2 linked regions of the Homo sapiens genome follow. The protein of the gene in region 2 interacts with the protein of the main gene of each other region in a pairwise test. Each region holds a gene or a part of one and is shown on either strand. Other genes may lie near its edges.

What was found.
Region 1: the proteins of IL37 (region 2) and GSN interact in binary tests that used the Homo sapiens proteins (3 or more experiments, as listed by UniProt).

Annotation. Positions count from the first base shown.
Region 1 is NC_000009.12:121,327,162-121,330,251, reverse strand, and holds part of GSN (gelsolin), read right to left. Parts: intron 2,945-3,090; coding exon 2,770-2,944; intron 1,362-2,769; coding exon 1,237-1,361; intron 1,015-1,236; coding exon 937-1,014; intron 1-936. UniProt on the Homo sapiens protein: Calcium-regulated, actin-modulating protein that binds to the plus (or barbed) ends of actin monomers or filaments, preventing monomer exchange (end-blocking or capping).
Region 2 is NC_000002.12:112,909,977-112,913,964, reverse strand, and holds the start of IL37 (interleukin-37), read right to left. Parts: upstream 2,801-3,988; 5' UTR 2,717-2,800; intron 1,003-2,716; 5' UTR 953-1,002; coding exon 871-952; intron 174-870; coding exon 111-173; intron 1-110. UniProt on the Homo sapiens protein: Immune regulatory cytokine that acts as a suppressor of innate inflammatory and immune responses involved in curbing excessive inflammation.

The DNA of each region.
Region 1 (3,090 bases), on a different chromosome or scaffold from region 2:
GAAGCCCCTCGAAGGCAGGCATTCTATTTTGCTCATCATAGGATTCTCAGCACTCAGCATTTTGCCTGCAAGACCATGGTGCTGAATAAATGTTGGCTGACTGAATCCCTAACAGATGAACAAACAGATTAAGTAGCCAATGGATCAATCAATGACAACTGCTGAATGGCTCAAGCTGCAATCATTTTTGGTCCCGATCTTCCAACTGGGGATTCCGAGCATCCCTGTGGGTAGTGTAGAGTCTTATGCCTTCGTGGCCAGCTGCTCCGTAACTCTGAGGACTCTGGGAGAAGCCACCTTGATAGGAAAGGTGACTGACCTGACACCCCTGTGAGAACGTAAGCCCTGGGAGAGCAGGAAAATGCCTACTTTATTCATTGCTCTATCCCAGCATCTCAAACATAAAGCACCTGGCACAAAGCAGTGCCCAATTAATATTGGTTGAGTAAGTGAATGGCATCTTCCCCTGCCAAGTCCTACATAATGGCCTTCTCTAGGAGATGAAGTGGAGACAGAGCCCAGAGCCCTCAAACCAGAAGCAGGAGCCCTCTAGAGCCTCTAGGTGACACTGGACAGTTTATGCCTGCAAACAAGATGCTGCTAAGTTCAACTTCCTCTGCCAACAGATTTAAAGGAAGAGTTCACGCTCCTGCAAGGTCTGGGAGAGAATGATGAAGGTCATGTGATTTGCCTTTATAGGGCGTTTTGCAGCTTTCAAGGTGAGTGTATCTGCAAGGGAGGTACCGCCACTCCCAGTTTACAGATGAGGAAATGGAAGCTCAGAAAGAAGAAGTGACTTCCAGTACCCTTAGAGACTTTTCTGGCAACACCTGGCACTGCCCCCTTTAGGTCCTTCTAGCAACTGATCATAGAACTGGAAGTCTAGTTTCTCCCACTCCCTCTGGCACAGAGAGCCTTCACCTGTCCTTCACCCACCTGGTCCCAGGTGTCCAGAAGCATGACGTCATCCGTTGCCAGGTCTTCCTGCATGAGCTCACCAGGAACCTCTTCGATCTGGGAAGGAACGAAAGAGCATCAGTGAGATGTCTTCCCTCCCCTGGGTGGCCTTCCTTTATCTGCCCCCTGAGGGAGTGGCACAGCTGGCTGCAGCTGGCAGGGGGCCCCTTCCTCTGTGCCACACCATCAGAACTGTTTCTCCTGCCCCTGCTGCCGGCCAGTCCTGTGGAACTCGCCTCCCGAGGGGAAAGCAGAGGTGTGACCTCCGCAGGGGCTCACCACAAAACGTCCAATCTTGTTGGAGCAGGCAAAGAGGCGAGGAGGATGGGCATCCATCTTCTTGTCCTTCAGCCGTGGGGATGTGCGGTAGGCAGCCTTCCCGCCCAGGGCCTCCCAGAAGCCATCTGTGAGGGGAGGCCACGCCAGTTGCCAAGGGACGCCATCACCCCTCTCTCCCATCTCATCGGACCCTGGGACCAGCCCTGCCCAAGCGCAACCAACTGCTCTCCCTCTCCTCCCTCCATCCTAAAAATCCCAGGAGATCCAGAGGGAAGAGGCCTGAGGGAATTGGAAGGTGACGAAATAGAGGCCCAGAGAGGGCAGACTTGGCAGTAGTCACACAGCCAGGACCACTATTGGCTTGAGGCTGACGACAGCATTGCGGGATGAGGACCATTAGCTCCACTCAGCTAATGAGGCAGTTGTGGCTCGGAGAGGTTAAGCAACTCACTCAAGGTCACACAGATGGTAAGTGTTAAGACCAGGATACAAATCTTGTCTGATTCTAACACCTATACTCTTTCCACTATACCTGCTCTGTCCATGTGCAGCCATTTAAATTTAAATTCATTAAAATTAAATTCGACTAAAAGTTCAGTTCTTCATTCCCACTAATTCCCACTGGTCGCATTTCAAGTGCTCAACAGCCACATGTGACTAATGGCTGTCAAATTGGACTCGGCAGATACAGAACATGTCCATCTGCATAGAAGGTTCTGCTGGACAGAGCTGCTTTAGACCAAGTCACTCTTCACCATTTCTGTTAAGCATCAAGCAGGTGGGAATGAACTCAAAGTAACAGTATAAAGACTGCAGGCTGGCAGAAGGAAGAGCTGCCCGGCCCACATTCTGGAAACAGAGCAGGCTGGTGGCATTTCTGTCCATGGAGAGTCTAGAGATGCAAGGAGACCACTGCTCCTCTGACGCTATCAGCCCTGCCTACCACCTTTCAAGGCTTCCTAGCGAGGGACCGCCTCCTTCCACAGACCAACTGCTCCTTCCCACACTGGGCTCTCCTTTCTTTCTTTCTTTCTTCTTTTTGAGACAGAGTTTTACTCCTGTTGCCCAGGCTGGAGTGCAATAGCGTGATCTCAGCTCACCGCAACCTCCAACTCTCGGGTTGAAGTGATTCTCCTGCCTCAGCCTCCCGAGTAGCTGGGATTATACAGGCATGTGCCACCATGCCCGGCTAATTTTGTATTTTAGTAGAGATGGGGTTTCTCCATGTTGGTCAGGCTAGTCTTGAACTCCCGACCTCAGGTGATCCGCCCGCCTTAGCCTCCCAAAGTGCTGGGATTACAGGCATGAACCACCACGCCCAGGCTAGGCTCTCCTTTCTTTAGCTCCTGGAGACCTCCCTCTCTCTGGCCACAGCCCTCATTTTAATGCAACTGCTTTTATTTAACATACATTAGGGGACAGGCCCTCAGGTGGGATGGAGGGGAGGATTTAGAGCCCCCAAGCTGAAGGAAAGAAGGGGGAAACTTAATAGCTGCATCCGGACAGCAGCAGGCCCCCCACCCCGGCTCCTACCTGGCTCGCTGCCTTCTGCCACCTGCACAGGTTGGGCCCGCAGCACCCTGAGCAGCTCCTGGGCCCCCGTCTTCTCTGCCTCGCTGGCTCCTGTACCCACCCACAGGTAGGCGGCTGAGGGGGTTTTCAGAACAAAGGCATCGTTGGAGTTCAGTGCACCAGCCTTAGGCAATACCTGGGAGGGTACAGCTTGGTTAATCAGGAACCAGACAAAAAGCCCTCAGCCCCCTCCTCACAGCCCAGGAGACCCCGCAGCAGGACTAGCTCTCAGGTGGGGACTTGGAGGAACACAGCCCATCAGAGCTGAGGGCACAGACTTTG
Region 2 (3,988 bases):
GGTGTCCCCATTCTACAATTCTCCCACCCTGTAAGAGGACCCAATGGCTCCATCCCCCATCCCCACCCTCGCACCTCAGCCACCCCCATCACCTCACCCCGAGGCCTTACTTGTGTGAACAAAATTCATGGTGGGGAGGCTTGGGCCTGGTTCCAGGGGGCTTCCAGCCGGGTCTGCAGTCAGACGCAGTGAGGTTAGCATATGCAATTCGGATTTTCCAAGGATTTAGGGGTATCAAAGACCATTTAATTCCCTCTTCTGTGTATGTGCTGAGAAATACTAGAGCAGCATGATAGTAATGACATTAAATCATAGCTTCCCTCTTCAGAAACATAGAATAGAGATGAACTGGATCACGGGTTTGGCCTCTGGCATGTCACAGGCCTCTCCCGTCACACCTCAGTAGACAATCATTTGGGTCAAAAGCCTCCTCCTATTGTCCCCCATGGGCAACACCCAAATGTGTTCCTCATGGAATACTCAGATGCCCTGTGCCTGGGTCATTTGTTCAGCCCAGCCTTAGAGAGCTGCTTCTCATCGGAGGCTTCTCTTCCACTTGGGAATGTTGGGAGGGAAGAGGTGCATTTTGAAGCATATGCAACCATCCAGTTGGCAAACAGGATGCTAAAGCCCCAAATCTGTAGGTGAGGACGATCCTTTTATCTACTACCTGATGTGCCTGGACACTGAAGCAAAGCTTCCTTTTCCCTTCCAGAATTTCTCTTGTCTAGTTATTTGTCCAGGGAAATTTGAAAGCTCACTTACTGTGCAAGTCAGCAGGAAACAACTGGGTCTGTGCACAGCACCTAGCAAAGTTCTGCTCTAGGAATTACACTTTGGCCCTGAGGTAGATTTCTACAAGAACCTTACCTTCTAAGCAGCACTGGGGTTCATCTTTTTCCCAGTCCTCAGAGCCCATTTTCACTCCTGAGTTCTCCCCCACAAAGGACATTTTCAACGTTGAGTTTATTACTCAACAGAAAATGGAATGAAGTCCAAGACCTAAGGAGATAGAAAGGGGACCAGTTATGGCATCTTCTCACCCCAGGACACCTTGCTGCATGTCTCTAGTGCTGAACAGACCACTGGCCTTGCTCTGTAGTTTGAAATGCTCGCTGCAACCAGAAAGGCACCAAGGGGCCAGACCATGCTCTCCTGTCTATCACGCCTTCAAAGCAGAATTTCCCAAACCTTGAGTCACAGTGCTAACACACGGGGTGCAATAGCATTTTTGTGGATCTTGGCATTTTACAAAAATAAAATAAAAAAGTTAAAAGTGCATTGCTCTAGTCTTGGGGCTGGCACACTATGGCCTTTGGCCAAATCCGGTCCCTGACTGTTTTTTTAAATAAAGTTTTATTGAAACACAGCCATGCTCTTGTTTACATATTGTCTCTGGCTGCTTCGAGGCTACAATAGCATGGTTAACTAGTTGAGAGATCATCTGGCAAGCAAAGCCTAAAATACTTACCATCTGACACCTTCTATAGAAGTTTGCTGAGTCTCTGCAGTAGCCTAATCTTTGCCTAACAAAAAGCAGTTGCTCTGCAACCTCTTTTCATGAAAACCTAAGCCACCAAATGTCCCAGGAGGCTCAATCCCTAATATCTTAGGGTAGGATTGACTCACGTGACTTGCTTCATTGGGAGGGGTTGGAGGAGATATATTTATATATATAAATTCTGCACACCCTATCTCAGTTGACCGAGAGCTTTCAACATCAGCCCAGGCCAACATAGGACAGAAGTGGAGCAAAAATTGGTATTCCCATCTTACCGATAAAAAATCAAAAGTTAAGTGATTTGTTCAGAATCATATCACTTCTAAGATTGCAGAGATAGGCAGTTTGTGTACAAATCCAATCCTTTGAGAAAGGTTTAGGAGTGAGACAAAGGGAACTAAATTGTTCATGCAAAAAATAAAAATGACAAGGAAGGGCTTCAGGACTCAACAATAAGGACGGTGAGCAGGAGCAGGTGGGTAGAGCTGATGGGTCTTTAGGAACAGGGATATCTGCTATTTGATTTTAACCTGTTTGTGGTTTGGCAGTATCCCTGAATACATGAAGCACAACTGCCTTTGTCATGTTGGGGTAAATCAAAGGACACAAAAAATTGGAGGCGCTTGACAGAGAATTTGGCAGCCAGAACATCAGAGCAAGAGATGTCTGGCAGAAACGTAGGTATCCAAAGACATATAAAGATACTGTGGTGCTGCTGAAGGACAGAAGGATGCTCACAGGCTGGAGGACCTGGGGCCATCCCTCGGGGGTACTCATGAAATCTGCTGCCTGTATTAAGATAAATGCAGGGAGCTTTCACAGAATTCCCTAAAGAAGCAGTGCATCTGGCCATCTGAAGTCCATCTCTTTGCACTCAAAATCTGTTCCCAAGGACCAATATTTTCTAGACTCTAAAGTCAGTCTTCTGAGCCTTCAGAGAAGGGACTAGCATTTCCAGGGTTGGTGGATTTCCTAAGCTAGTGTCTGCCTGGCCCTCCAGCAATGCCCTACTTGTTAGTGGAAGCCCTCCTGGGAGAGAGCAGGCTGCTACTGGGGCTGAGAGCAAGGTGTTCTGGGCAGGTCTCAGAGATCATATTTAGAAATTCAGATGTGCTTCCAGTGGGGATAAAAAGCAAGGGTCTAGATGGCCAGATGCTACTCTACTTCCCCATCCATCCTGTTGGCCTTGAAAGCCAGTGCAGGAGGACCACCTACCTGGGCCAGGGATCCTCGTGGTCTGTGGCTCTGTCTTGGACTCCTGGAGCTCTGTTTGCCTTCAGTTCTCAGGATCCTTTACTTGAAGGAGCTAGGTCTGGTACTCATTTGTAATCAACAGTTTGTGAGTGGTTATGCAAATACAACACAAGTATTCCTTTGGCCAATAATAAATAGCATCCTCAGTTATCAGTGATCACTCATTTCCTGCTATTTTCCATGCCAACGGTATAAACAAATTCCTGTGGGGGTAGTGCCACTCTGCTAAGGACTGTGCCACACCTATTCAACACATTTCAAGGTACTTGTGATAGATCAGGTGGCTTCCAGTCCAGTCCAATAATACAGGTATAGAAAACAGAGGAGAGTGAAGGAAAGAGGGGACACAGGGTTTAGATCAGCCAATGAGCCTGGGAGGTTCAAGGAAGCCCTTGTTCTCATGATGGTTCTTTGCCCCAATTCCAGAGTTCATGCAAGTGGAGTCCCCATGTCCCAGAGAAAAATGTCCTCTTTTCATGTTCCCTTCCAGGTACACTCCGGGATGCACTATACCTCTTCTATGTCCCCTCTTCTTCAAAGGTGACATGCAAAAGGACCTTCCTTGATCAAGCCCTCCAAGGACTAGCTTCCTTCTACAGCCCATTAGCTATTTATCTGCACTTCCTTGCATTTTTCCATCACATTTGCCCTTGTCAGTTACTGTGTATGGCTATGTTTTACAACACCACACACAGCTGCTCAGTATGAGGGGAAATCCACATAACCAATTAAGGTAATAGCTTCTGGACCACCACCAGCAGCATGTCAATAACACAGGAACAACAGGCCAGCACAATAGTCAACCACTGTGCTCTCACTGTGCCAGGTCTGGGCTCAGCCCATTTATTTATTTTTCTCCAACCAAATCCTTTGATGACCCTGGGGGTAAATACCATCCTTCCTGTTTTACAGACAAAAGGTGGTGCAGTTTAGAGAGGATGGACAATTTACCCAAGATCACATCCTTAATTACTGGAAGAACTATAACCCAGGCCTTTCTGAGCATGCTGCAGCCTCATCTCTTAAACTTCACCGAAGACTGTGGTCTCATCCTCTAGCCTTTCTTCACATACGCATTTATATAACATACAAATATAGGAGTGTGTCTGACAAATTATTTTGTAAGATACATTTCCTACTTAATGTATCTTGCCTTTTCTACTCAATATGATATCTCAAACATCGTTCCATTTCATCAATACTTTTCTACAATAGTGTATCTAATTACTGCAA